Linked DNA regions of Homo sapiens: region 1 is linked to region 2. A link means that fine-mapping ties the variant in region 2 to the plasma level of a protein whose gene starts in the linked region. Region 2 holds a variant in brackets. A gene starts in the other region. All regions are shown on their forward strands.

The links. A credible set is the group of variants that fine-mapping cannot tell apart. PIP is the chance, under the fine-mapping model, that this variant and not a neighbour inherited with it causes the effect. The UK Biobank Pharma Proteomics Project read protein levels with antibody pairs (Olink). The fine-mapping took linkage between variants from a reference panel, not from the people measured, so its PIPs are less certain.
Region 1: STX3 starts here. The variant in region 2 is the best candidate, but not a certain one, in a credible set for the plasma level of the STX3 protein (UK Biobank, PIP 0.85).

What each region holds. Positions count from the first base shown.
Region 1 is chr11:59,749,277-59,764,791 of GRCh38, forward strand. STX3 (syntaxin 3) reads left to right here and starts at 6,100. Exons shown (of 11, transcript NM_004177.5): 1 at 6,100-6,359. The coding sequence starts at 6,330. It also overlaps the pseudogene OR10V2P. RefSeq lists enhancers at 4,530-5,030, 4,720-5,014, 4,780-5,074, 5,011-5,170 and a silencer at 6,041-6,300.
Region 2 is chr2:24,054,543-24,070,057 of GRCh38, forward strand. It overlaps FKBP1B (FKBP prolyl isomerase 1B), which reads left to right. Exons shown (of 4, transcript NM_004116.5): 3 at 6,272-6,384; 4 at 8,522-9,139. The coding sequence ends at 8,650. SF3B6 (splicing factor 3b subunit 6) reads right to left here. Exons shown (of 4, transcript NM_016047.4): 3 at 13,779-13,917; 4 at 13,044-13,309. The coding sequence ends at 13,220. Among named protein-coding and RNA genes, the nearest start is that of FKBP1B, 13 kb to the left of the region's middle. RefSeq lists a silencer at 97-391 and an enhancer at 6,396-6,535. The variant G/A (reference allele first, on the strand shown) is at 10,186.

The DNA.
Region 1 (15,515 bases), not on the chromosome of region 2:
TGCTCATCACTCTTTCCTATGTCTCCATCATGGCCGCCATCTTGAAGATTTGCTCTGCAGAGGGGAGGCACAAGGCCTTCTCCACCTTTCCTCCCACCTGACTGTGGTTCTCCTCCAGGACTGATGTACACGCCTCGCCTTCTTGTGTCCCAGCTCTAGCTACTATCCTGAGAGGGGCCAGGCAGTGTCTGTGGTTTACACCTTCATTACCCCTGTGCTGAACCCTTTGATCTACAGCATGAGGAACACAGAACTTAAGGATGCTTTGAAGAGAGCAATGACGAGGGTCCCGCTGCTCTAAACACATGCCACTCTTCAATACTGCTGGGCAGAGACACATGGCATACTGCCAGAAAGATAAGGAGAAGGGGCACAACAGTTGATTGTGTTTTATACTGTTAGTTCTTAGTTATATTATTTTTGAAAAGTCATTTTCCATTTCCCAGCCTCAGGTTCTTCACCTCCAAAATAGAGATTAAACTACCTGCAGGATCTAAATTCTGGGGGTACTTCTGAGGATCAATAGATATATTAAGTGAAAGTACTTTGTGACTTTTAAAGGGAGATATGGGCGGGGCACAGTGGCTCACGCCTGTAATCCCAGCACTTTAGGAGGCTGAGGTGGGTGGATCACCTGAGGTCAGGAGTTCAAAACCAGCCTGGCCAACCTGGTGAAACCCTGTCTCTACTAAAAATACAAAAATTAGCCTGGCATGGTGGCGGGTGCCTATAATCCCAGCTACGTGGGAGGATGAGGCAGGAGAATCACCAGGAGGCAGAGGCTGCAGTGAGCCAAGATTGCACCACTGCACTCCAGCCTGGACAACAAGAGTGAGACTCCATCTAAAAAAAAAAAAAAAAAAAGGGAGATATGGCAGTAAATGTGGTTATTGCCATCTTCATCATCATGTAAAATCTGCCCTACCTTGGATTTATCTCCAGATGTTGTTCTCAGGTTCTCAGCAGGCCCAAACAGTGCACACGTGGGGCTAAGCCAGGAATAGGATTCAAATGAAACTGGGACCACTGAGTTTGTGCTTTTTTTTGAATTAATAATCTTTCATCCTAATTTCTATTCCAGGGAAAGGTGATGGAGAAAATATCGGAGTCTTGGAGTTTCGGTAGCTTCTCTATTCTTGTTTTTTTTTTTTTAGATAAGAGTCTTGCTGTGTTGCCCAGTCTGGAGTGCAGTGGTGCAATCTTGGCTCACTGCAGCCTCCACCCCCCGAGTTCAAGCATTCTCCCGTCTCAGCCTCCCAAGTAGCTGGGACTACAGGTGCCACACCACCAGACCTGGCTAATTTTTGTATTTTTAGTAAAGACGGGGTTTCACCATGTTGGCCAGGCTGGTCTCGAACTCCTGACCTCAGTTGATCTGCCCACCTTGACCTCCCAAAGTGCTGGGATTACAGGTGTGAGCCACCACACCCGATCTCTTTTCTTACCTTTATACCAGAGCTTATTGGTCTCCATATGAATCACTGGCTCTGTATCAGTCTGCCTCCAAACTGTTCTCCCCACGACTATTCATTCCCCTCCCCTTTCTCCCGCAAATGTGTGGTCATGATTCCCTAAGCTGAGGGATTTATTTTGCGATGTTTTCCAAACTCTTTTTTCTTTGGAGGACGTCTTGAAGTGGGTTGTGTTGTTGAACTTATGTTGATAAATGCAGCATTATGTTGGAGAATGCTGAACTTATGTTGGAAAATGCTGACTCTGAATACCAAGATGGTTATTATTTTATCTGTGAATGAAATATTCCAGGCATTTCTCAGTTTCCCGTGCTCTCTGAAAAAGCAGTGCAGTTATAAAGGGTTAGCAGACTTTTTTTCAAGTTATTGAATTACGGAATTAACAATTCTCGTATATATTAACTCACTTATCTTCACAAAAACCCATGAAATGGGTACTATTATTATTATTTATCATTATTAGTTTTTTGAAACAGAGTATTGCTCTGTCACTGAGGCTATAGTGCAGTGGTGCAATCTTGGCTCACTGCAACCTCCTCCTTCCAGATTCAAGCAATTCTCATGCCTCAGCCGCCTGAGTTGCTGGGATTACAGGCATGAGCCACCACCCTTGGCTAATTTTTGTATTTTTCTTAGAGACAGGGTTTCACCATGTTGGCCAGGCTGGTCTTGAGCTCCTGGCCTCAAGTGATCCACCTGCCTCAGCCTCCCAAAGTGCTGGGATTACAGGTGTGAGCCACCACGCCCGGCTGAGATGGGTATTATTATTATCTTTGCTTACGGATAAGGACATTGAGGCACAGGGGCATTAAATCAATTGCCAAAGGTCACACAACCATTAGTGGTAGAACTGAGATTTGACCTGGGTAGTTTGGCTCCACAGCCTGGGCAGGCAACCACTGCCTTTTGCAGCATGTCTATCAGCATGCTATGTGAGCTTGGGAAAATCATCTTATTTCTCTGTACTTAATTTAATTTATAATAAAATGGGGATAATAATATGTACCCTAACTCCCTCCCTGAGTGATTGTGAGATATCAGGACAAAACAAAGTTATAAAAGTGCAGTAAAATTCAGTATGGCTATTCAAACATTCAAACGAGGAAATACATTAGATGGCTTATTTCTTTAATTACAAGGAGTTTAAAGCCACAATTATCCAATTGCCCTTTATCTGTGCTTCATTATAAATATCCTGTTCCTCTTTTTAAAGGAATAGATATACTTTTAATTTTTTTTTTTTTTGAGACATGTCTCTCTCTGTCACCCAGCCTGGAGTGCAGTGCCGTGATCATAGTTCACTGCAGCCTCAAAATTCTGGGCTCAAGCAATCCTGCACCGCAGCCTACTGAGTAGCTGGGGACTGCATGTGAGCACCACTATACCTGGCTAATTTTTTTTTTTTTTTTGAGACGGAGTCTCGCTCTGTCACCAGGCTGGAGTGCAGTGGCGCAATCTCGCCTCATTGCAACCTCTGCCTCCCGGGTTCAAGCAATTCTCACTGCAGCCTCCACCCCCTGGGTTCAAGCAATTCTCCTGCCTCAGCCTCCCAAGTAGCTGGGATTACAAGCACACACCACCACGCCCAGCTAATTTTTGTATTTTTAGTAGAGACGGGATTTCACCATGTTGGCCAGGATGGTCTCGATCTCCTGACCTCATGATCCACCTGCCTCAGCCTCCCAAAGTGCTAGGACTACAGGCGTGAGTCACTGCACCTGGCTCGATTTATGTATGTTTTGTAGAAATGGGGTGTCACTCTGTTGCCCAAGCTGACAAAGAATTCTTATTATTATTATACTTTAAGTTTTAGCGTACATGTACATAACGTGCAGGTTTGTTACATATGTATACATGTGCCATGTTGGTGTGCTGCACCCATTAACTCGTCACTTAGCATTAGGTATATCTCCTAATGCTATCCCTCCCCGTTCCCCCACCCCACAACAGTCCCCGACAAAGAAATTTTAACACAGTTGAAACTGTACAACTATGGAAGGTGCCACCTTGGGAATGTCTGGAAAAACTAAAAAAGTTAAAATGGCAAAAACTCCAAAAATTATTGGGTGTCCTGTGGCATGCTAGGCCTTATCTAAAGCACCTTTCTGGATTACCTGATTTTTTAGTGATTTTTGCCTTATAAAATCTTGCAGCTATTTTCCAACTTGGTAAGTTGTAGAAAATTCATAGGAATGCCAATGATTCTTGTCCATAGAGATGCCTGGTAGAAGTGCAATTGCTCTCCCAGCACCCCGAGGCCAGTTCTGCATTTATTATTTATTTTTATTAAAAATATAATTTTTAAGACAGAGTTTTGCTCTGTGGTCCAGGCTGGAGTGCAGTGGTGTGATCTCAGTTCACTGCAACCTCTGCTTCCCAGGTTCCAGAGATTCTTCTGCCGCAGCCTCCCGAGTAGCTGGGATTTGTAGGCGTGCACTATCACGCCCGGCTAATTTTTTGTATTTTTAGTAGAGATGAGGTTTCAAGATGTTGGCCAGGCTGGTCTTGAACTCCTAACTTCAAGTGATCTGCCCGCCTCAGCCTCCCACAGTGCTGGGATTACAGGCATGAGCCACTGCACCCGGCCAGTTGTGCATTTATTAACATGTTCGTTTCAGCATTCCTGATTGCCTATATATGTGTGTACACTTTGTGTTTTCCTCTGGACAGGGCTAGCTTTACTGGTCTCCTCATTCATTAATGAATTAAAGTCTTTGATGTGTGTGCATTTTATATTTGTAGAGGAGTCATGATTTTACTCTTTTCAAAACAATTATCCTGTAACAGGAACCCTCTGAGCAGAGGCAGACAGGCCACCCTTGATTCCTGCTGTGGAAAGAGAATTTTTTACTCCAGACCCCAATGGTCCTTTTCAGATTCCTAACGTGAAGGGTTGTTCATATCTCGGCCTCTCGCGGAAGACTCTATTTTCTTGAAGCGCGGGGAACTACGTATTCCCACTAACAAAAATCTGTTAAGGGGCAGGGCGCAGTGGCGCACGCCTGTAATCCCAGCCCTTCGAGAGGCCGAGGCGGGCGGATGGCTTGAATACAGGAGTTCCAGACCAGCCTGGGCAACATGGCGAAACCCTATCTCTACGAAAAAAACACAAAAATTAGCCGGGCGTAGTGGCGCACGCCTGTAATCCCAGCTACTTGGGAGGCTGAGATGGGAGGATGGGTTGGGCCCAGGGGATCGAGGCTGCAGAGAGCGGTGATCGCGCCACTGCACTCAACTTGCGCAACAGAATGAGACTCTGTCTAAAAAACAAACAAACAAACAAACAAACAAACAAACAACCCCCAAACTCCCCAAAAATGTGTTAGGGGAAGGAGGTGGGACAGTGTGTATTTCTGATCTACTCGCCTTTCCTAGTATGACCACCAGGGGGCGCGGAAGCCCTCCTGGTACTAAGGCGGGGACAACCTGCCCAGCGAGCACAGCGGGCAGAAGGAAGTGTGCCGGACGCGAGAGAGAACTACGGCCGAGACCCGCGGGGCCGGCTCAAAGCCCGACCTCTGCCATACGCACCGTATCTTTATGGGAGCCGATGAGGTCAGCAGGGAGCACGCGTTCAGATGGCAGAAGAGGGCAAAGTACTGCTAGAATTACAAAGATATTTACAGCTTTTTAACCTGAAAGCACAGAGCAGATCCTATTCTTCAGAATTAAATCTTCGGCTCGCCAGTCCCGTTTATGGATCTCCACTCTGATGAATGTGCCATTTGTTCCCAAGAAGACAAATAGGGTAGGGAGAAGAGGGAGAGGCGGGGAGAAGACTCGAGATAAAGGGACGATCTGCTTTTCGGAAGCAGAAGCCGCCTGGGAACCACCTGCACACCAAGCAGGCTGCGAGGACGGGGAGCGCTCCAGTGCAAAGTTCTGTATTTTAAAGCCCCTCCTCGCTCACAGGCTTCACAGCGAACTACGAAGTGGGTACCATCTCTGATTTACAGACACGGGAACGGGGTCCTCTTGAGAAACGATGCTTTCCCAAACGTCTGCAAATTGTGAGTGCCAAGTGTCTCCACTGGCACTAACAACATCGAGCTGCTTACGTTTCTCGGAGCGGTCCCGATTTCCAACAAGCAAAAGATCCAAATTCTCTGACCACCCTGACCGTCCTGTATCTCCAGATCTCCAGGTCTTTCCTCTGGACACCTCCTCCATCCCCCCACTTTCACTGCCAGCAGCCCTGAGGCTGCGCGGGATCCCGCTACTCGGAATGCCTTCCTCCTGGCGGGATATTTTTAGAACACTCGACTGCCACCCAATGTAGCCCACATCACATTGTCTTATTTGTTTTCGGGAGCTTGTCCCCGCCTAGCAAGGAGTCGGCTAAGAACTGGATCCTAGCGAGGAGCCCGGCACAGACAGCGAATGACCGCAGCCAGACAGTCGCTCTTGCTCTTCCTCGGCCCTGCGGCAGGATCCGCCGGTGCAGGGGCCTCTCCCCGGACTCCACGCGTGTCTGGAGGGCTCTCGGGTTAGGGAAGGGGGCTTTGGAGACGCCCCGGGCGGCCGGGCGGTGGCGGGACGCGGGCCCTTTAAGAAGGAGCGAGGGGCGCGGCCAGGTAGGGGCGGGTCCAGGGCGGATCAGCGCTGCGCCGGCGCCGGCCCGGGAGCCGGATTTGGAGCGCGAGGCGCCGGTGGGGGCGGAGGGGGCTGCGCGGCGGAGGCTCCCGTGGCCTCGGACGCTCCTCCTAGCTAGCGGCCGCCGCCCGCCGCCGCCTGCGCCTCCAGCTCCTTCGCCCCGGCGGGCCCGGCCGCCGCTTCCGGCAGCTCACCTGGGAAGCGCTCACCTGGGACGCGCTCACCTGGGACGCGCTACCTGCCTCCGGGCGCCTGGGCTTCAGGATGAAGGACCGTCTGGAGCAGCTGAAGGCCGTGAGTTTCGCCGCAGGCGGGGTGCTGCCAGGAGGGGTGCTGCATGGGAGAGGGGCTTCCCTTTGCTCCCCAAGTCGAGGCTGGAGGGGGGCCCGAGCCGGAGGCTTGCCCTCCCCAAGCCCCCACCGCTTCCCGCGCCGGTTCCGCACCCTCCCCTCCCCTCCCCTGCGGGGTCATGTGCCCGGTGATTCATCGCTAGGCAATGATTTTCCTGAACGCCTCTAACTCTCCCACCCCGCAAGCTGGACAGTGTCTGTCCAGAGCTGGTTCCCGAAGCGGGTGCTTGGGCCCGGGAGGTCAGGGGTCCCTTCACCACCTGCCCACTGCTGCCTGGCACTATGCCCAGGACCAGCCTCCTTCTCCCTTTCCTGTTTCTCTCCTGAGGTGCTACAGGCCTGGCTGCCCCTTCCCCCAGGGAGCAGCTCAGAGCTCTCTGGTGACCTCTGGAGCTGTGAGCCGGTCACATGCTGGGATGGGTCAGCTCCTCTCCAACCGGTGGTCTGTAATTGTTATCCCCGGGTGTCATTGTCCCCCCCTCCCCCGCCGTATCTTTTGGAACAGCTGTGGTTAGGTCAAAGGATCTGAAGGTAGACTACCTCCAGCCTTGGCTGCGCAAAAGCTGTAAAGCCTTAGGTTACTTACTGTGAGTCTCTGTTTCCTTATCTATCAAATGGGAATGATCATACCCTAGGAATTTGTTGGGAGGATCAGCTGATACAATGGAACTTGATACAGAAAAGGGTTAACGCATAGGGTTTTAAGCCAGATATTCATTGACTCATTCAGTACATAATTATTGAGTGTATTCTATGGGGAGGTCCAGTGCTAAGCCTTGGAGATTCAGTGGCACAGGTTCTACCTTAATAGAATTAAAATCTAGCCCTTGACACTCAAGAGTTTAGTCCATCTACTTTGGAGCTTGTTACAAGTGTAGCAGCTTAGGCCTGAGTCTAGCCCCGCAGAATCAGAATCTAATTATTCATCCATTTCCCCAGGTGATTCATGGGCACATTACAGTTTGGGAAGCACTGGACTGGATTAGAACTGGGGTTGTCTCCTGGCTCCACTGCTTACTGGTGATCCCTTAAAATCCCAGCCTAAGTTTTGTCATTTGTAAAATGGGTAGTTGTAAGGTCGAAATGCAACAGAAGATGCTTAAGAACACTTTTAGGGTGCATGGCACGGGGGACTTAATAAATGGTGAAATATGCTAATAACTGTGAGTGCTCTTGGGAAAATGCAGATGTCAGGGACTGCTGGGATGATGTTACAAGAGTTTATCCTTTTTCTCCCTTGCTTGGATGAGACCTTCATTCCTGTTTCACCTGTTCTGTGTAGCAGGGCTGCGGAGGAGGCAGGTAGCTGGGGAAGTGAGAGAAGCAAAGGGACAGTTGCCTATTGTGGGAGTGGCCTCTCTGCCTCAGGCTTGTGCTTAGTCATCTCAGCCTCACAGCGTCCAGGTTACTGATGGGGCAGAATTTATTGCCCCTGTTTTTATAGATGGGGAAACTGCTGCTCACGGGGTAGGAGGGATGCTCCAGGACACAGAGCCGGCCAGGGCACCACCAGGAGAGGAACCCAGGCTCTTGACACTCTCCACAGTGCTCCTTCCCTTGAAGCACGCTGGTTGGGGAGGCAGAAGGAAAAGAAGAGCACGATTTTGAAGATCTCTCTGTGTCGGCACACCCAGCAACCATAAAAAAGTACAAAACTGAACAGCAGGCTCTTCCATTTATTAGGAAATCCACTTCCAGAGGAAGATACTCCATGGCCCCTTTCAGTAGCTCATTGTCAACAATGAGCAAAGAGTCTTAACTGAGCTTTGAGTTCCAAGAATAAATTTAATTTGCCTGGGGACGCTGAGCAAGTCTCTTTGCCTCTCCTCGGTGCCTCATGGTTACCCTCTGTACAATGGAATTAATGATAGGTTTCCTCCCCTTCCCTCTTGGGGATGTGGTGAAAGTGAGACTGGAGATGGTGGTGGTATTATGGGAGGATTGTTCTGAAATCACAGGGTGGCTTCTGTAGCGTCTTGGAGCAGATGCATGGCAGCGTGGGACAAAGGGACACAGGTGGCAGGTTCCAAGACTGATCACTGTGCTTCTTTGCGTCACTTCTCTGCTTCTCAATTCCTCCTTTATACAACAAAGAATTGAGTTGATCTCAGAAGCCCCCTCTGGCGTTATTATAGGTTTTTCTTTGAAGACTGTTAAGGTTTATGTGGATTTTGGTGTCAGTTCACCTCCTCTTATCCCCTCTCCCCAGCCAGACTCCCAGGGATCACCCTCACTGAAACAAGATATGCGTCTTCTCCCTCTGATTTCCGTTATCAATTAGAAGCGTTTGTTAACCTGCATGAAACAAATTGCACATTGAGCAGCCTATGCAATCTCTTTCTGTGGTGTTCTTTCTAAATCCTGGGGAGGGGAGGTGGTAACTGCCTCCCGATAACTGGAGGGCTTTCCGTGCCTGTGATTGACTTTGTTCTGGGTAGATACAAAGAGAACATGTGGGGTTGATGGGTAGAAATGAGGAATCTGTAAGAAAGCGTTTTTAGTAGACAGAGCTGCCCAAGGATGGAGTAGATGGTGCACCCTCCAGCATGGGAAGGAAGCAAGAAGCTTGTTGGGATTTTGAATGTTGTAGGAATTTGAGCATCTCTTGGAGGGGAGGTGAACTAGGAGATATAAGGCCTTCACCAACCTTAAGAATGTGTGGTTTTATAAAATGCTTAATTGTGAGCCTGTCCTGAGGCTTTGAAGTCTACAGGGACTGAGGCCTCAAGAGTTGCCCCTGTAAAGTGGCTCATCACCCTTTTCCCATAGGATCATTGTGAGGATAAAATGAGATAATCCGTGACAATCACCCACCACTGTTATTGTTAGTTCCTCTGTCTTGGCCTGCTGGCAACAGCGTCCACACAGAAGGGCATCCCTTCCTGAGGCCATGGTCACAAGATCTGACTCACCTGGTCTCATCTCATCTCTTCTCTTGCACTGCTCTTCCTGGTGGGCTCCCTCGACAGCCTGCTTTTTCAGTGACACAGGACAGGCTTGCCAAGAATGTGCAGTGCCTCTACCCAGCCTATCCCAGGACATGGTTTTCTCTGACTTCTCAGCAGCTGAACTTTGAATCTGCTGAGTCCAGACAGTTCCATGCTTTTGCATGGCCCTGTTTTCATTCAGCAAACATTTGCTGAGTACTGAGTACCCACTGTGTGCCAGTCCTTGTACTAGATGCTGGAGTGTAATGGTGATAAACGCATGTTCCTGGCCCTTAGAAAGTTCATGGTCAGGTAGGAAGAAACAGAAGAAATAGACATGAGGATATCATCCTTGTGATAGAAGCAACCACAGGAAGACCCTGTTGGCCAGTCTTTGGAAGATGGGAGATGGGCATGAGGCTTTGGGTGGGTTCCCAAGAAGTAGTAATGCTTGAGCTCAGCTGATTCTTCCAGCCCAATCTGACCTTTTCAGATATGTAAAGGTGGTTGGAGATACATAAGTTACTTTACGTACCAGATAAGTAAAGAGACCTTGTATCTAATCCTCTCAACCCTGCAAAGCAGAGTGGGTTTTTCTATTATTCTCATTCTGCAAGTGAGTGAATTGAGGCTTAACAAGAAAGGCAAGGATCCTAGATTGTCTTAATCACTCTCGCATTGGTGTATAAACCATCAAGCATATAAACAACTCAAGGGAGCATCAGCAGGGTCGCATGTGCATGGTACCTGCTGACCACCATGATCAGAGCTTTGTGACCTCTGTGTGCCTAGCATCCTGCTGGGCGTCAAGTTTAGGCAGGATTGACAAAGTCCTAGTATCAAAGGGTAAATGATCACATAGGGAAGACAAAGACATGTAGTATATGACAAGAGGGCCAACAGTAATCAAAGCCATATGGTGGTAATGGAGAAGCCAGTGATGTATGGAATAGAGGTTGAAGGCTTTGGACTCCCTTGGAGACGGATCTGTAGAGGACTGGAAATGACGTGGATGTAATGGCCCTTCAAAGACCAGCACTAATAAGGACACACTAATGAAATCAACCACCTGGGGCTCTAAAGGCCAGACTAACTTTTTACTCTCTCTGTGTCTTGCTGCTTCCTAAATGGCTGTTATTGGCCTCCTTCCCCACTGGAAGCTCCAGGATCTTTGTGGAATCATAGTTCCTTAGGATAACATTATAACCCCATCAGCAACATGGAGCTGTGTACTTCTCCTTTAAAGCTTAATTTGTTAATAAATATTTATCGAGCCGCTTTTATGTGCCAGGTGCTTTGGATCATAACTGAACCTTAACATACCAATCTGCGCTTCACTGAGATTCTGTCTTTCTCTAGTCATAAAATTTCATTCAAGTCAGGATTCCTGCCTCCCCTCTTCTCTGTACCTGGGAGGATTCATTCTCTGGAAGAGCTGTTTTTCTGTGAGCAGACGGGAACCAGAGCTGAGAGTGATGGGGATTGAGTAGGGATTACAGCCCCATCAGCCGGAGGCCAGAAAATGCTTGGATGAGAGAAGAGGATTAATTTTATTTTTATTCCTGTGAGTGTGGGGGAAGTCGGGGGAATTGGCAGGAGCTAAGGGAGGGACACTTGTTCATGTTGTCCTCTCTCTCTTCCAAAGCTTCCTCCCTGCCTTTTGTCAAAATTTCTACCCATCTTCCAAAACTCATTTTTTATAGGTAGTAGTGTTCTGTAACTGCAACTTAGAATACTCTCCTCCATTCTTGCAGCTCTCACGGGGTGCATGTTGCTTTGCAGTAGGTTGTGGGTTTTTTTTTTTTGTTTGTTTGTTTTGTTTTTTTAATTACCATGGAGTGGGTTTGAAACCACTGTCCGTTGCTTTTTATAAGTTAGACCCTTTATCCCCTTTATCTTCTAGGTCCTTTTGTCTTTAAGGTCAGTGTTTCTAGTACTTCTTGTCACCACATCAATTACAATAACAACAATCATTTATTGAGCAGCTACTATTGGACAGACTTGTGCTACATACCTTACATACCTTGTCTCTAATTCTCTCAACCCTGCAAAGCAAAGTGGGTTTTTATATTATTCTCATTTACAAGCAAGGAATTGAGATATTATTCTCGTTTTACAAGTGAAGGAATTGAGTCTCAGGTTTGACTGAGATCCCCATCTGGGAAGTGGTGGGCTCAAGAATTGAACGTGTGTGTCTTGCTTCTTCGTATCCCCTTACACTGTATTCGATCATCTCCCTAACTGCACTATATGCCTCTGATGCAACAGCAGTTATGATAGTCCTCTGGAGCCCCAGGGCCTAGCACTCTGCATGGTAAGCCTGTATTAAACATTTGTCTCTTAGTTGATTAATAACAGCTTGACCCTTACACATCCTTTACTCATTATTATGACTTATTTTTCTTGCTCCATTCCCTGTGGGCTGGTGAATCTTTACCTACCTGAAGTGGAACATTTACTGAGGGAATCCATATGTTTGCTAATGAAGCCAGACCTTACAGGTCCATCCCCAAGGACGGAGTTCCAAGGCTCCTAACTACACCTAAACACCTAGCCCAAGATGACATGGAAGGTTGCCCCTATTTAGAAAGACAATGAAGGCGAAGATGTGGCTACCATGGTGAAAACTTAGGTACTCCATTTTTCTCCTGGCAAAATCCTACATATCTCCAAAGTCTCAGTTCCAGTGTCATCCAGCTTCCCAGGCTGACAGCACTGAGCATGCCTTTCCTCGGACCCCGCAAACTTTACTTTTGGTGGTGTATACAAATAGCCACATGGTATTGCAATTTCAGATGCCACTGGCTCTGTTAGTTCTTGTGCTCTGGGAGAGCACAGACCACATATGTCTCATTCTCTCTTATACCTTCCCAGCCCAAAGCCTGTAAAGCTGTAAACCAAACTGTCCTGTCAATGAATGGGGATATTCTGTAAATTTATTTGCCCGCAGATTCTGTAGTCCCTGAGGGGCCTTACCTCCAGCCACCTTTATGTTAGGCCCCTCTGCAACTGCCCCCACCCCATCTCCTCTCTCAGGGTAGCCTGCTTTTTGGCATTGGACCATTTCCATGGCAACTTTCCCCAGTCTCCATCTGGAAACTGAGTGAAGTTCAACCCCCCACCTAAAGAGATTAGTGGAGCAAATACTGTCTGGTTATGTTCAGCTGTCTGGGTTAGGACAGCTCAGTATGGCATCAGGGTTTTTTTTTTTTTAATAAATTTTTAAGTTTTAGCCTACTTTTAGATTTATGGAAAAGTTGCAAAGATAGTACAGAGAGTTCCTGTCTAGTCCTCTCCTGGTTCCCTCACTTGGTCTCATTTTATACTACAGTGTACACTTAGCAAAACTAAGAGACTTATATTGGTACATTACTATTCACCCAACTCCATACTTTATTTGGATTTCACTAGTTGTTCCACTAATGTCCTCTTTCTGTTCTAGGATGCGATCCAGGACACCACATTGCATTCGGTTGTCACATCTCCTTAGCTTCCTCTGGCCTGTCTGACAATTGCTTAGTCTCTTGTTTTTTGTGACCTTGGCGGCAGGGCTCCGGCATCTGTTTTCTAGTGCTCTGGAAGCACATTTCCTGTGGCCAGTGCTACATGCTACAGCTAGGGTGGTGGTGGAGCAGCCGTTAAGAGGCAACACTCCAGATGGCTGAGGACAAAGTCCCGGCAGCCAGCTGCCCAGGCACCCCTCCTAGCTCAGGTGCCCACTGTCTGCAGGATCTTGGTCAGGTTGCTTGGTGTCTTTATGCATTAGTTTTCTCAGCTGTAAGATGGGGAATATCCCCAGAAGACTGGCCTAGGGATTAACTGTCATGGTCAATAGAAAGCACACATCTTAGAAGGATCCTCACTCAGCACATGTTGAGTGTTTAATGAAGGTTGCGCGTTGTCACTGTTATTTAAGTATTCTAGAATGACCATGAGGGAGAGGAAGCTTGTGGGACAGAGGCTGAAAGGAGGGGTTGGGGAGAAGGCTGAGGATGGAGTAAGACAGTATTAGTTCCTTTCTTCCTCCTCTCTGTGTCCTTGAGAACTGAATGCCATGGTGGTGTCCAGAGGCCAGGACAGGAGACAGGGGAAGGGAGTGGAAGAGAGGGAAGAAGTGTGGGGTGGAGGAGGAAGGATCTAAAGGACACCTGAGATCTCCAGGAGGAAGAAGAAGGCCTTCTTTGAATCTCCTTGAATGGCTCCTGGGATGAGAAAGAAAGCAGGAAGAAGGTCTGATCTCCTCACCCTGAGTGGCCTTCTTGTAGGTTTCATTTGGGTAAATCCACACATTCCACAAAATTTCTCCAAGGAGTCACTTCTGCCAACATTCTCTAATAAGCTTCCATCTTCCCCAGGCTCAACCTTGAATTCAGGCAAGGTTGGGCACTGCGTCTTCTCTTGGGTGTGTAATTCCTTGGGCTAAAGCACTGTCCTCACGTGTCATGTGGTATTGTATCGCATGGACTGTTGCTTGGCAGATGTTAGATGTGCAATAAATACTGCCGGATGAAAGAATGAACAAATGAATCTGTTACTTTGCATGGAACATTGTGGCTGTGCTGATGGGTGATGAGACCTTGAGATGCCTCTCTGAGTTAATGAAGGAGTGAACATTGGATTAGACCACCCAGGTTTCTAATCTTGGCTGTGTTCCTTACTGTGTGATTCTGGATGAATTAACCTTCCTAGCCACAGATTCCTTGTTAGTGTACATAACATCTACCTAGAGGGCCTTTTCCCCCTCTTCTTCCTTTCTTGGGAGTTTTTGTCTTTCTTGTCTAGACCCACCTCAGGTCTGGAGAAGCAAAAGCAGGTAGGATGGCATGTGAGGATTGGACTTCAATGATTTTTGTATCCGACAAGCAGAATGCAAGTTCTTTTGAAATACGCATAGAAGATTAAGAAATACCATGTATTAAGACACAAAGAAAATGCCAAATCTCACAGAATAAAAGTCATATAGGCCGTTTCCTAACAGTGATACAATTAGAAATTAATACAATAATTGTCCTCCCCAGGCTAATCCATATTGGAAATGTAAGAACGCCTTTCTAAATAACTCTTGGGCTAAAGATAAATCAAAGTAGAAATGACAAACTATTTAGAAATAAATGATCGGCCGGGCGCGGTGGCTCATGCCTATAATCCTAGCACTTTGGGAGGCCGAGGCAGGTGGATCACCTGAGGTTGGGAGTTCAAGACCATCCTGGCCAACATGGCGGAAACCCTGTCTCTACTAAAAATACAAAATTAGCAGGGCATGGTGGCGCATGCCTGTAATCCCAGCTACTTGGGAGACTGAGGCAGGAGAATCACTTGAACCCGGGAGGTGGAGGTTGCAATGAGCCAAGATCAAGCCATTGCACTCCAGCCTGGGCAACAAGAGCGAAACTCCGTCTCAAAAAAAAAAAAATAAAAGGAATGATCACAAGAGCGGTAAATATCAAAATTTGGGAGAAGTAGTGGAAGAAGAATTGAGAGGGAGCTCTGTTTCTTTAAAAGCATATAGTAGAAAAATGACAGATTTAAAGCACATGAGGTAAATGCCAATGAATACATGAAATTCTCTCCTCCTGAGACATCTAGTGTCACCATCTAAGAATTGGCATTAGAATTGCATCTTTGCCAGAAACTCTTAGCAAAAACAAGGCCCAATTTTCTGCTTTAGATAACATGATCTTGGGCATTTAATATGTGCCTAGCATTGCTCTAAACATGTCTCCTGTGGTACTGATTTAATCCTTGCAACAATTCTATGAGCAGATTATTCTTGTCATGTCACAAATGAAGAAACTGAGGCACAGAGAAGTTAAGTAATCTGTTTAAGACCATATAGCTATTAAATGGTAGAGCCAGGTTTTCAACTCTGTATCTCTGTAGAGGTACAGAGATACATCTGACTGCCTGAGTTGGATTATATACACTGGTATCTTTTTCACTCATGCATATAGGTTAATCCAACTTAGTTTTATGGATGTTGTGGTATCCCCTGAAATAAGCGAGAGCGTGTTCACTGAGCCTGAGTGGGGAGGATGCCTTCAAGTGTGTGTAGTGGGGAACAGCAGAAGCCCTGGGCTCCCACAGACTTGCCTGTGAGTCCTAATGAGGTCGTTTATTAGCTGAATCATTTTGGATGAATTATTTAATTAAGCAGTTGTCTTATCTGGAAATGG
Region 2 (15,515 bases):
GAGCACCCTGCCTTGTGACCTGCTTCCTAAAGTGGCAAACTCGATGACAGCCACTTAGCAGACAGCAAGCCCAGGTTAATTCCTAGGACATACTCGGATGGGGCCATTTTTAGCAGTTCTGTGGGCCAGTGTGAAGCACAAGGTTAATTCTAGGCAGATGGTGTGGATGTTTTCAGCAGTTGTGTTGCTGGTCGCTGATGTCAGTGGGCTGGACCATGTTTTATCTCCTGGTGATGTGGCCTAATTACCATGGGTCGTCTGGGGCCTCTGACCTGTGTAATTGATTTAACAATTTTGCATGTTGTAGACAGACCAGTATTTATCAAGTTACTGAAACCACAACATCCTTTTGCAAAGTCCTTTCACAATACATACATAGGGCAGCAGCTCCTGTCTTGGGAGAGACTATGTCTTATCAAACATAGCGGGAGACTATGGGACTTTTGGTAAACTTTAAAGTTAAATATAAATATAGTAGAGAACATAATGTAAGATGTCTAGGTCAATGAATTTTTTCAAAGTGATCACATTTATGTGACTACCACCTAGAGAAGCATAGAACATACAAGCATAGAACCAGCATCCCCAAAAGTCCCCCTGATGCCTTCTCCCAGTCATTTCACCTCCCTAGAGGTAGCTATCATTGTTTTTCTTTTTTTTTTTTTTTTTGTCATTGTTGTTGTTGTTTTGAGACAGGGTCTCACTCTGTGACTCAGGCTGAGTGCAGTGGTGATCACAGCTCATTGCAGCCTCGACCTCTCGGGCTCAAGTGACCCTCCTGCTTCAGTGTCCTGACTAGCTGGGACCACAGACATGAGCCACCATGCCTGGCTAATTTTAATTTTTTGTAGAGATGAGGGTCTCACTATGTTGCCCGGGCTGGTCTCGAACGCCTGTATGCAAGTGATCCTTCCACCTTGGCCTCCTAGTGCTGGGATTACAGGTGTGAGCCACTGTGCCTGGCTGGCAACTATTACTCTGACTTTTGTCTCCATGGATTGGTTTTGCCTATTTTTGAACTTCATCTTAATGGAACCACAGCGTAGGTACTCTTTTGTGTTTGGCTTATTTCACTCACTATTATGTCTGCGAGATATATCCAGAATGGTTTATTCCTCTACAGTATTTTAACGTACAAGTATGTTGCAATTTATGTATCCTCTCTACCGTTGATGAACATTTGGGTTGTTCATAGTTTTTGTTTATTACAAACAGTGTCACTTTGATCAGTCTTGCAGGCATCTCTTAGTGTACATGTGTACAGACATATGTGCATGTTTCTGTTGGGTATATACCTGGAAGTGGGGTACCTCCTGGGCTCAGCGTTAGCAGTACTGTCTGACAGCTTTCCAAAGTCGTTGTGCCAGTTTCCACTCTAGGCAGCTGTGTAGGAGACTGCCAGTTACCCTGTGTCCTCCCCAACACTTGTTATTGTCAGGTTTTGGTTTTGTTTTGTTTTTTCTTTTTTTGAGACAGAGTCTATGTTGCCCAGGCTGGAGAGAAATGGCATGATCTTGGCTCACTGCAACCTCTGCCTCCTGGGTTCAAGCGATTCTCCTGCCTTAGCCTCCCGAGTAGCTGGGATTACAGGCGCCCGCCACCATGCCTGGCTAATTTTTGTGTTTCTAGTAGAGACGGTGTTTCACCATATTGGCCAGGCTGATCTCAAACTCCTGACCTCAGGTGATCTGCCTGCCTCGGCCTCTCAAAGTGCTGGGATTACAGGAATGAGCCACCACACCAGGCTTTGTTTTGGTTTTGGCCTACTCTGGTGAGCGTTCAGTACCATTTCATTGTGGGTTTTTTTGTTTTTTTTTTTTGAGACAAGGTCTCACTCTGTTGCCAAGGCTGGAGTGCAGTGGTGCGATCTTGGCTCACTGCAACCCCGCCTCCTGGGTTCAAGCGATTCTTGTGCCTCAACCTCCCAAGTAGCTGGGATTACAGGTGCGCACCACCACACCCAGCTAATTTTTGTATTTTTTGTAGAGATGGGATTTCACCATGTTGGCCAGGCTGGTCACTGTGGTTTTGATTTGTGTTTCCCTGATGATGAATGAAGTTGAGCACCTTTTCATGTGCCTACTGGCCATTTGGATATCCTCTTTAGACTGCTCTAATTTTGTCCATTTTAGAAAATTAGGTTGTCTTTTTCTTTTTCTTTTTTTGAGACAGAGTTTCACTCTTGTTGCTCAGGCTGGAGTGCAATGGCGCAATCTTCACTCCCTGCAACCTACACTTCCCGGGTTCAAGTGATTCTCCTGCCTCAGCCTCCTGAGTAGCTGGGATTACAGGTGTGTGCCACCGTGCCCGGCTAATTTTGAGGTTTTTAGTAGAGACAGGGTTTCGCCATGTTGGCCAGGCTGGTCTCAAACTCCTGACCTCAGGTGATCCACCTGCCTCGGCCTCCCAGAGTACTGGGATTACAGGTGTAAGCCATGGTGCCCGGCCGGTTGTCTTTTTCTTGTTGATTTATAGGAGTTTTGTATATGTTTTGGATATGAGTCTTTTGTTGGTTATATCTATCCCAAACATCTTCTCCCACACTATGGCTTGCCTTTTTACTCTCTTAATAGTATATTTTGAACAGAAGTTCTTTTTTTATAGTTTATATTTTCTTCTTTTCTTTCTTTTTAAAATTTTTTTCTTTCTTTTTTATTTTTGAGATAGGATCTCACTCTGTTACCCAGGCTGGAGTTCAGTGGCTCTAGTCTTCAGGGATCATGGCTCACTGCAGCCTTGACCTCCTGGGTTCAAGGACTCCTCCCATGTCAGCCTCCCAAGTAGCTGGGAGTACAGGAACATGCTACCATGCCTGGCTAATTTTTTTTTGGTTTTTTTTTGTGTGTGTGTGATGGAGTTTTGCTATCGTTGCCCAGGCTGGAGTGCAATGGCACGATTTCAGCTCACCACAACCTCTGCCTCCCAGGTTCAAGCAATTCTCCTGCCTCAGTCTTCCGAGTAGCTGGGATTTCAGGCATGCGCCACCACGCCTGGACAATTTTGTATTTTTAGTAGAGACTGGGTTTCTCCATGTTGGTCAGGCTGGTCTCGAACTCCCTACCTCAGGTGATCTGCTCGCCTCGGCCTCCCAAAGTGCTGGGATTACAGGCGTGAGCCACCGGGCCCGGCCACCTGGCTAATTTTTAGTTTTTCTGTAGAGAGGAAGGTCTCCCTATGTTGCCCAGGATGGTCTCAAACTCCTGGGCTCAAGTGATCCTCCTACCTTGGCCTCCCAAAGTGCTAGTATTACAGGTGTGAGCCACTGTACCTGGCCTGAACAGAAGTTCCTAATTTTGATGAAGTCTGACTTATCAATCTTTCCCTTTATGGTTAGTGCTTTCTGTGTTCAGTTTAAGAAATCTTTGTCTGTCAGGCCAGGTGCGGTGGCTCCTGCCTATAATCCCAGCACTTTGGGAGGCCAAGGCAGGTGGATCACCTGAGGTCAGGAGTTCGAGACCAGCCTTGCCAACATGGTGAAACCCTGTCTCTACTAAAAATACAAAAATTAGCCAGGCATGGTGGTGCATGCCTGTAATCCCAGCTACTCGGGAGGCTGAGACAGGAGAATTACTTGAACAACCCAGGAGGCGGAGGTTGCAGTGAGCTGAGATTGAGCCGCTGCACTCCAGCCTGGGTGACAGAGATGAGACTCTGTCTCAGGAAAAAAAAAAAAAAAATTGTCTCTAGGTCATGAAGATATCCTTCTATTTGTTATCTTGTAGAAGCTTTATTATTCTATCTTTCATATTTAGGTTTATGATTCATCTGGAATTGATTTTTTTGTGTGTGGATTTGGTAGGGGTTAAAGTTCATTTTTTCCCCATATGAATATACTGTTGACTCAACAACCTTAATGCAAGAAAAAAAAACCTTTATTTGCTGCATTGCAGTGGTATCTTTGTCCAATCAAATCACCATGTAAGTGGGTCTGTTTCTAGACTGCATGGTTTTGGCTTAACTTGTAGCAATAGATAAATGAAGTTATTTATCCAAAGTAGATTAAGTCACATGAAACCTGAAGAAACTAAGGAATGAGAAAGGAAAGTCGGTATATAAATGGAGTGTGTGAATGTGTGCATGTGTGTTTGCATATCTGTGTGCATATTTGTACAAGTATGTATCTGTGTGAATGTATGTAGATCTGTGTATGTAAATATTTTCTTAGCATCTATTTGGCCACCAGGGCTTTTCTCCTGAGTGTGAGTGCATAAGTGCATGTGAGCATGCACAAGTATCTTTGTGTATTTGAATATCTTAGCAACCTTAGCAAATGCATGCGATTGTATTTGATCTTGTTAGCATCCATCTGCATGTACCTCTGTGTAGCCAGAAGGGTTTTCTTCTTTGCCTCAGTTAGTACCCAGGGCAAAAGCTTAATGTATTCTACTCAGAAAGTAGTTAAATAAGACTGTTTCTCTAATATATATTTTAGTTGTAGGAATTAGGAAGTAGCATCATAGATGCTCCTACACTAAGCTGGCCCTGCTTCCTATGTTAAATATGACACATCTGAGGCCCTGGGAGAGGAAGTGATTTGCCCAGTCTCACACAATGAGTTAGAGCCAGAGTGAAGTCAAAACCCAGTCTCTGGATGTACAAGCAAGGTCTTTTTCTAGTCCCAAATGGCCTTTTGTGGTGGTCCAGGGACTGCCGGGAGCAGTCGTGGAACTGCATCATTTACAGAAGGTCTGATCTTTGAGTCAGAGTCACAGAAGAATTGAGAATAGCTGTTGGGCCTTGGGCTGCTGGACTGAGATGACATGTGGACATCAGGATGACAAGGCTTCTGAAGCAGAGGCTGGGGGAACCAGAACTGCTGGACCAGCACCTGGGGGGGGGTTCTGGTTTCAAACAGCCCTCTTAGTACAGAGTCTGGAGGCCACCTCTGACCAGCTAGGTCACCTTACACTGTTCCCTACAGTAGGGGATAATGTAACCTTTGGGTTTTCCCTTTTGGGGGAAACTTAGGAAACCTTAGGAACCTTATGCGAGGACTCAACCTGAGGCTGGAATAGCTGGGAAAACAGAACTTTAGGTGGAGGAAGTGGCATAAAAAAGTTGAAAAGTCTGGCTGGGCATGATAGCTCACACCTGTAATCCCAGCACTTTGGGAGGCTGAGGTGGGCAGATCACCTGAGGTCAGGAGTTCGAGACCAGCCTGGCCAACATAGCAAAACCCCATCTCTACTAAAAATATAAAAAAATTAGCAGGCATAGTGGCAGGTACCTGTAGTCCCAGCTACTCAGGAAGCTGAGGCAGGAGAATCCCTTGAACCCGGGAGGCGGAGGTTGCAGTGAACCGAGATCACACCACTGCACTCCAGCCTGGGCAACAGAGGGAGACTCCGACTCAAAAAAAAAAAAAAAAAAAAAAAAGTTGAAAAGTGCAGAGGAATTTGAGAAAGGTATGACCTGAAAAGGACACAGAGGGAAGGGAAGGAAGGGGAGAACAGAGAGGGTTATAAGCAGGCCAGAGCCGGATTGTGAAGTGCCTGTATGCAAGGTAGGCATTTGGATTCTGCTCTGGGGAGCTATTGAAGTATTTTGAGCAGGGGAGTAATAGAATCAGATTTGTGTTTAAAGAAAAAAAAAAATCAGTCTGGATGCCAAGTGGACAATGAAATGGAGGCGAGTAAAAGAGGATCAAAAAGACCAGTTAGGAGGTTGTTCCTGTGTACAGGTGAGATAAGCTGGTGACTTGGTCGTGGTAATAGAAACAAAGAAAAGGCCAGGCACAGTGGCTCATGCTTGTAATCCCAGCACTTTGGGAGGCCAAGGTGGGTGGATCACCTGCAGTTCAGGAGTTCAAGACCAGCCTAGCCAATATGGCAAAACCCTGTTTCTACTAAAAATACAAAAATCAGCTGAGTGTGGTGGTGGGCGCCTGTAATGCCAGCTACCTGGGAGGCTGAGGCAGAAGAATCGATTGAACCCAGGAGATGGAGGTTGCAGTGAGCCGAGATTGTGCCACTGCACTCCAGCCTGGGTGACAAATTGAGATTCTGTCTCAAATAAATAAATAAATAAATAAAAATAGAAATGAAGAAAATAGGTGGATTCCAAAGATATGGAGGACTTAGTGATAGGCAGTATGTGGGGGTGAGGCAGAAGGAAGTGTCCAGATTTCCTGCTTGGGCAACAGGATGGATGGGGAGGATCGGAAGAGGAGCAGGTGTGTGCAGAAAAGGCATTCCATTTTAGACATGTGGAATCTGAATTGGGAGTTTACTCATGACCACAGCTCTATTGCACCCGATTCTTGCTTTGACAGGAATGCTCCAAAATGGGAAGAAGTTTGATTCATCCAGAGACAGAAACAAACCTTTCAAGTTCAGAATTGGCAAACAGGAAGTCATCAAAGGTTTTGAAGAGGGTGCAGCCCAGGTAGGATGAGGATTCGCATTAAAGGGGATCTGGGGAGTTGGGGATCTGGGATCAGCACTCTGCCCTCCACCTCCACCTTCACCCACTCACAGACCACTACTGCTTTGACTCTACAGCCAGGGCATGGCAACGCCATCTGGTGTCCCCTCCTGGCTTTGCGTCCCCACCCCTCTCCTTGCCAGCATACCTCTTTTGTGTCCCTGGGGGCTCTCATCCCAAGCACATCCCCCTAGGCTTGCTCAGAACTAGCTGAGAGAGCCAGGCACGGTGGCTCACACCTGTAATCCCAGCACTTTGGGAGGCCGAATGGGGTGGATCAGTTGAGGCCAGGAGTTCAAGACTAGCCTCACCAACATGGTGTAACCCCGTCCCTGCTGAAAATACAGGCGTGGTGGTGCATGCCTGTAATCCCAGCTACTTGGGAGGCTGCGACAGGAGAATTACTTGAACCGGGGAGGTGAAGGTTGCAGTGAGCAGAGATTGTGCCACTGTACTCCAGCCCAGGCGATGGAGTGAGACTGTCTCAAAAAAACAAAACAAAAAAATAAACTAGCTGAGGTCTACCAGTTGCCTGGGACTGAGGTAGTGGAAGAGTTGGGGTGGAGTAGGCCAAGAAAATTTTTCGTTTTTTCGCTTTTTTGAAAAGAATTTCAGAATTACAAAAATATTAAAGAAATAGTACAGAGTTCTTCTATATTCTATCCAGCTTCCCCTTCTTGCATAACCATAGTACAATTATCAAAACCAGGACATTCACACTGATACAAATTACTTACTTATTCAAATTTTTGATTATTCAAAATTCAAAAGTAGATTTAAATTTCACCAATTGTCCCACTAATGCTGAGTGGGTTCTCAACAACTGCTGTGATGAGCCCTGGTTCAAGCTGTTCTTTCTTGGTCTGTCTGTGAAGTCCTATGATGCTCCCTTACGATAGGTCTTGTTTTTGGTGTTTTTTTTTAGAAAGAGTATCACTCTGTCACCAAGGCTGGACTGCAGTGGCGCAATCTTGGCTCACTGCAAGCTCCGCGTCCTGGGTTCACGCCATTCTTCTGCCTCAGCCTCCCTAGTAGCTGGGACTACAGGCGCCCGCCACCACGGCCGGCTAATTTTTTTGTATTTTTAGTAGAGACGGGGTTTCACCGTTGTTAGCCAAGATGGTCTCGGTCTCCTGACCTCGTGATCTGCCCGCCTCAGCCTCCCAAAGTGGTGCGAGCCACCGTGCCCGGCCTGTTTTTTGTTTTTTATTTATTTATTTATTTTGAGACGTAGTCTCACTCTGTTGCCCAGGCTAGAGTGCAGTGGCACAATCTCAGCTCACTGCAACCTCCTCCTCCCAGGTTCAAGCAATTTTCCTGCCCCAGCCTCCCGAGTAGCTGAGATTACAGGTGTGCACCATCACCATCACGCCTGGCTAATTTTTGTATTTTTAGTACAGACGGGGTCTCACCATGTTTGCCAGGCTGCTCTCGAACTCCTGACCTCAGGTGATCCACCTGCCTCGGCCTCCCAAAGTGCTGAGATTACAGGTGTGAGCCACCACGCCCGGACTTTTTGTATTTTTTAGTAGAGACAGGGTTTTGCCATATTAGCCAGGCTGGTCTTGAACTTCTGGACTCAAGTGATCTGCCCACCTTGGCTTCCCAAAAGTGCTGGGATTACAGGTGTGAGCCACCACGGTTGGCCACAATAGGTCCCCCTTGCCACCTTGCTGGTGACTCTAGTCTCTAAACCACTTTAAATAACTGCCCCTGTCACCTACTTGAGTATTTACGTGTGCTATTCATACACCCTCTTTTCCTAAAGAGGCCTATTCTTTGGAAGAGGGTGAACTATGAACAAATGGAAGTGTTTCAGTCATACACAAATTGAATAACCAGTAATGTTTGTCAGATGCATGAATTTGAGACCACTCTGTGAGGGTTACTGCCCCACAGTCACATCTCTGCTGAGGCAGAATCTGCGTTTGTTAAAGCTGTTAGCACGATTTCAATGTATCCCATGTAAAATTCATCTGAGATCTTCAGAGTTAACATTGAGGATGGTTTGGGAAAATGCCATAGTCATCTAACTTTTTTCTTTTAAATCAAGCTGGGTCCTCTTTCTCCTCTCCCCATCTGCCCCCATCCCTGCTAGATGAGCTTGGGGCAGAGGGCGAAGCTGACCTGCACCCCTGATGTGGCATATGGAGCCACGGGCCACCCCGGTGTCATCCCTCCCAATGCCACCCTCATCTTTGACGTGGAGCTGCTCAACTTAGAGTGAAGGCAGGAAGGAACTCAAGGTGGCTGGAGATGGCTGCTGCTCACCCTCCTAGCCTGCTCTGCCACTGGGACGGCTCCTGCTTTTGGGGCTCTTGATCAGTGTGCTAACCTCACTGCCTCATGGCATCATCCATTCTCTCTGCCCAAGTTGCTCTGTATGTGTTCGTCAGTGTTCATGCGAATTCTTGCTTGAGGAAACTTCGGTTGCAGATTGAAGCATTTCAGGTTGTGCATTTTGTGTGATGCATGTAGTAGCCTTTCCTGATGACAGAACACAGATCTCTTGTTCGCACAATCTACACTGCCTTACCTTCACTTAAACCACACACACAAGGTGCTCAGACATGAAATGTACATGGCGTACCGTACACAGAGGGACTTGAGCCAGTTACCTTTGCTGTCACTTTCTCTCTTATAAATTCTGTTAGCTGCTCACTTAAACAATGTCCTCTTTGAGAAAATGTAAAATAAAGGCTCTGTGCTTGACAAACTCCTGTCCATCCTTATTTTAGGTAGGAAGTGCTCTAAGGACCACACAAGCCAGGTGCCCTTGGGAAAGAGTGGAAAGAAAGGAGGGTTCCAAGTGGCTAGGTGAGTGATAAATATAATAGCTACAATGTGAGCATTTTACATGCTGGGCCTTGTTCTACATACTTTTTTATTTTATTTATTTATTTATTTATTTGAGATGGAGTCTCGCTCTGTCACTCAGGCTGGAATGCAGTGGCACAATCTTGGCTCACTGCAACCTCCGCCTCCTGGGTTCAAACGATTGTCATGCTCACCAGCACGCCTGGCTAATTTTTGTATTTTTAGTAGAGACAGGGTTTTGTCATATTGGCCAGGCTGGTCTCAAAACTCCTGACCTCAACTGATCTACCTGCCTTGGCCTCTCAAAGTGATGGGATTACAGGTGTGAGCCACTGTGCCTGGCTATATACTTTTAAATTATTACCATTGATCCTCTAAGCAACCCTGCACAGTAGATATTACCTGCCGCTCATCTCAGGCTCAGAATCCTCCTCTGCATAACTAAAGAAATATAGGCTCCAAATCTTGTAGCCTAGCAATCAGATGTGGGACTTGAGCACCTTATGTGCTCTTGCAATCTTTGTTTGGACTACAGCCAGAGGGATGAGCTCCACTCACCCAGATGGATACAGAACACTTTTTGTGTCTAAACAAATGAAGGTGTGTTAAGGGCTTGAAGTCGTACACTAACTCACATTGGGAAGTTCCTTGTGAAAAGAGTGTGTGATTCTGAGCTTGTTTTCACATACACTGCTTAGTTTCACCTAGATTTGTTCTGACTTACATTGAGGAATTACTTTTGAGAAGAATGTATGATTCTGAACTTGTTTCCACATATAGTGCTTATTTCATCAACATTTATTGTAACTAACCAGAAACACCAGTTAGGTTTTAAAATCAGCACACTTATTGGTGTAGGTTATATATAGGCCATAGGAGACTGAGGCAATATACTCAAACATTTTTCTTTTTTTTCTTTCTTTTTTTGAGACGGAGTCTCACTCT[G/A]TTGCCCAGGCTGAAGTGCAGTGGCATGATCTCGGCTCACTGCAAGCTCTGCCTCCCGGGTTCACACCATTCTTCTGCCTCAGCCTCCCGAGTAGCTGGGACTACAGGTGCCCACCACCACACCTGGCTAATTTTTTGTATTTTTAGTAGAGACGGAGTTTCACCATGTTAGCCAGGATGGTCTCAATCTCCTGACCTTATGATCCGCCTGCCTCGGCCTCCCAAAATGCTAGCATTACAGGTGTGAGCCATCACGCCCAGCCTCAAACATTTTTCTTTCAGTTGGTATAGGATGAGAAAAACTCCTGGCCATAGTTGGGGTTATTCTTTTTTTTTTTTAATCATTTATTTATTATTTTTAAAAAATAGAGATGGGGGAATCTCACTATGTTGCCCAGGCTGGTCTCAAACTCCTGGCCTCAAGCTATCTTCTCTCAGCCTCCCAAAGTGTTGGGATTATGGGTTTAAATCACTGCACTCAGCCAATACGGTTTTCTATCAGTGACGACTTCGAATTGTTTCAAGATTGAGGACGGAGGGGCTGATAACAGGTACTGTTAGTGTTCCTCATAGACCCACTGATACATGTCACATGATGTCATATATATGCTATGAGGCCATGTCATCTTGGCTACATGATCTACCTTTTTTGTCTCCAAGAAATCCTGGCTGTATTCCTTTGCTGAGGGTGGAGGAGCTAATGAAGAAGCAGTGCTTTAGGATGGAGAAAACGAGAGAAAGGAACTGCCTTGCATTTTAGTCACCAAAGTCCCTGTGCTCACCTCTATTGTGAGACTAGACCAGCCAGAGGGTATTTCCTTCAGAATGTCTTGGTTCCTGGCTTTCTTTGATGACTCAAATGCCTACAATAATTTCTCAGAAGTCAGCCTGCATAAAAGACATACGCATATTTTCTGCTGTGACACCAATAAGATAACAAAAGATGGCATCAAGGACTATTTCAGGTGCCCACTATGGGGCATATAAAAGATATTGGTCTAGAGTATTTATAACTGAGGTGGGTCAAAGGAGACACCCACTAAAAGAACTCCCCCAAAGTGCAAACACATACTGGCTAGCACCTGGAGAGGACAGGTGAGGCTCTGCAGGTAAACTGGGAAATGAACCATTTTACTGGAGCTCTTAAAAGATGATGCAGAAAATCATGATGCAGTATGCTAATGAGTCTGGACATTGGCCTATGAGAGCCACTAAAGCTGTTAAACAGAAGAGCAATAATAAGATCAAGGTCACATCAGTTGTTTTCAGACTTTCAGTCAATGAATTCTCTATTCCTACGAATTTTTTTCTTAGAAACTCAAAAATTTAACCCAGATGAAAGTAAAGCAGCTCTGGCACATGTGTGTGCACATATAAACACAGTCATCTGTTGCACTCTTAAAAGCATTTGAAAAATTGAGCTTTGGATGCCTTGCACAGAGGACCGATCATAATTATATCCTCAGCATCTTCGTACAGTACTGTGTGCAGAGTGGGAGTCAGTGTTTGTCCACTGAGTGCAAGTTCTTGTAACTTAATTGCGACAGGATATGGAATTTCCAAACAATTAGAGGGAAGTTTTAAGTCTTAACTTTAGGTCATGAAATTCAGCTAACAGATATATCAATCCAAATGATGGACTGGTCATGACTGCTAATAGAAGGAATTTCTCCTTGTTATTAAAACAACTACACCAGAGGCAAGCTAGCCTGCCACTTAGACAAATCACACTCTAAGTTTTAAAGTCTAATTTCAGTTTTTCTCTTACAAGAAAGTCTTTTAGAAAATTCTTTTTACATTACCTAAAGGCACACCGTGCATTACAAAAACTAATAATGCATTCATAAAAGCATTCAAAAGAAAATTACAGCTGTAGCTCCTTTCTTATCTTCCCACCCTTAGAAATGACTCTACTCTCTTACACTGCTTTCAAAAAACACTCAGATATAATTAAAAGCAGAATTGATGCTCTTTGTACATTGAAGTGATTCAGTGTATGTACCTTCAAATTGATTTTAGGTTCCAATCACACACAAAACAATTAGTCCATGTTTTTCCATTTGGTCCATGCCTAAGCAATAAAAAGCAAATTACGGCTATATTCTCCCAAGCTGCCATGATGATGAATGGGGTAATAACCATACTGTTTCCATGTCATGGGAACTCATGATAATAAGAATGAGCATTAAGTATTTATGGCAAAGATATATTATGAGCTAAGGTCCAATATACCTACAGATACTTAATAACTAAAGGAAAAGTCTACATAAATACAATCTTAGACATGTAACAACCAACGCCACTACCCAAGCAGCTTGCTCTCAAATTTCTACCAATGTGACAATTATTATGTACCCATAATAATTAAAAAACAATTTAAAGAGGCAAATCTAAGTTTCTAACAATGTACTATCATCTAAATGACCATTTCTATAATAGACCTCTGTTCTAAAGACAAGGGTACCCATATTGACACAGGTGTTTTGTTAACTATAAAGCAAGCATTATTCAAATGTAAAGGCTTGGTTAATAACTGGTTGTTATCACACCAGCTTTGTATGTTAGCATTTTATTCATTCAACCAACATCATGAACTTTGGTTTCCTCACCTGCAAAATGCAAATACCTATCTTCACTGAGTTGTTATGAAGATTTCATTATTAATGGACATGCAATAAACAGCAAGTTCCTTTGATGGCTAAGCACTGCACCGGGCCCTGGAGGCATTAAGAATGTAAAGAGATCCTGTTCTCAAGAAACTCAGAATCCCTAGGAGCACCTACAATTCTTGATAAGCTTCAACTGTTTTTTCCTGGTATCAAACAGGAAGGGAAAGTTCAAGAGAAAAGACTGAGGTGTTTCACAAAAAGCTACAAGTTTATTAACATAATGTATTCCAATATGTATCAAAGTTTCAAGCAGGTCATTTTGAACCTCAAATAAGAAATCACAATATTTAGTATTAATTAAAAAGGAAAAAAAGGTGGTAGTTGTCATTCGTGGGATTTAGTCCAAATGAAAATGTAGAAAACATTTATTTTGGTGGATCTGTGTTGATGCCATATTTCTCCTTGAGAAGCTTCAACTGTTCCTCCTTCTTCTTTGTGTCCATCTTCTGAAATGCCTGGAAATGTGGTAAGCACCAAAATTAAATTACCAATCTACAGCCAAATGAATTTCATCAATAGCATTAGCCAAAAAAGAAAGTCATAGTAGACATATATCATCACAGTACAGTTCTACACTAATTCTCTTGAGACGGAGTCTCTCTGTTGCCCAGGCTGGAGTGCAGTGGCGTGATCTTGGCTCACTGCAGGCTCCACCCCCTGGGGTTCACGCCATTCTCCTGCCTCAGCCTCCCGAGTAGCTGGGACTACAGGCGCCCGCCACCACGCCCGGCTAATTTTTTGTATTTTTAGTACAGACGGGGTTTCACCGTGTTAGCCAGGATGGTCTCGATCTCCTGACCTCGTGATCCGCCCACCTCGGCCTCCCAAAATGCTGGGATTACAGGCATGAGCCACCGCGCCCGGCCAGTTCTACACTAATTCTCAAATGAGATCACTACACAATGAGAACTTTGCTATACTTACCCTGTTGGCATTATAGTACAAAACCACAAGGTATCTGTTACAAACATTGAATCCCGATAGGTGATCACATGCATTCTTGGCATCAAAGATGTCCTCATAGACCACATAAGCTGTTCCTCTAGTTTCAGGTGTGTTCCCCCTGGAGAGGTAAGTTAAACTTAATTAAGATATACATTTACCTGAGCATTGATAGTTGACTTACAGAACTGTCTTTTAAACTGGTAACTGTCTTTTAAAAACAGTAAATTGAAATACGTTTTTAGTTAAGTATTTTGAAATCAACCTGAAACCATCAGAGGAAATAAACATGGATAGATATACCGGATAAGCCTGTAATTTCTTGAATTAGGTAATTTTGTTCTTCGTTTTTATCTTAACTAAAATATCCATAGGTCAAGCTGACTGTCACATCAGGAATACTAAGAACACAGCTACTACACAGAACAGCCTCGTGAGTTGTGGGGACTACAGGTGCTCTTGCCACCCTGACTGGCTCTACGTTGTCTTTGTTTTGTTTTGTTTTTGTTTTTGTTTTTGTTTTTTTGAGATAGACTCTCACTCTGTTGCCTAGGCTGGAGTGCAGTGGCACAATCTCAGCTCATTGCAACCTCTGCCTCTCAAGTTCAAGTGATTCTTGTGTCTCAGCCTCCCAAGTAGCTGGGACTGGAGGCATGTGCCACCATGCCCAGCTAATTTTTGTATTTTTAGTAGAGACAGGGTTTCATCATGTTCCCCAGGCTGGTCTTAAACTCCTGACTTCAAGTGATCCGCCTGCCTCAGCCTCCCAAGGTGTTGGAATTACAGGCATGAGCCACCACACCCGGTCTACATTCATTTTTAATACAACTCAAGTGCTAATGCACGATACAGCTGTGTGGCTAGGGAGAAGGGCTAGGCTTCTGCAAAGATGGGAGTGGAAGTGTGCTTGTGGATAGGGTTATCAGTGAGCCAGGGCAGAATGCTGGAAGGTGGCTGGAAGTGGAAGCTAACCTTACTTATGGATACGAGGTTGCTGTTAGTGTAGTTATTCCTGGCCACTTCCTTCCTTCACCTCACCAACTTCCTCTGGGAGAGGTAGAGAAGTTTGAGGAGCAACGCAACGCTAAATTGCAGGCAGCAGGTGGCCATGTGACTGTTAGTGGAGACAATGGGTAGAGGTCCCACTCAGTTCAGGCTCTGGGTGACAAGATGGCCCCCTTGCCTCCATCTGTGTTCCAACCACCCAGTGCAACTGTGGAATGAGGTTTAAGACTGTGGGCTGACTCTCCATCTGCCACAGTCCTTACATAGGGTTGAATAAAAGCAGTGGAGCCATGGGAAGAGGAGGTACCTGCCTAGACTTGATCTAGGATAGGACTATAGTCTGGGCCCTGTTCAAGCTTGTGCTTCCTGTAAAATTGAAAAGGAATAGGGTACTGGGGGTGATTGGAGGGTGCCACTGTCAATGAATGCGCTCACTTTGTCAGGTTGTGTGGGCCTGACGAGGGGTTTTAGAATGTTCTTTAGGCTCTGGCAAGTCTTAACAACTTTCAGACTTTTGACTTCTAAAAACTTAATAAGATTTTCAGTTCCTTAAGAGCAAAGGTGATCTTATGCGTACTTCATTTATTCCTTTAGTGCCACGCATAAGGCAGACGCTAATACGCCTTTGAAAAGTGGAGATCTACTTTCTTCTATCAGTTCTCTCACACACACTTTGTTCAGGAAGCTCAAAACAAAACTAAACAAAGCAACTCT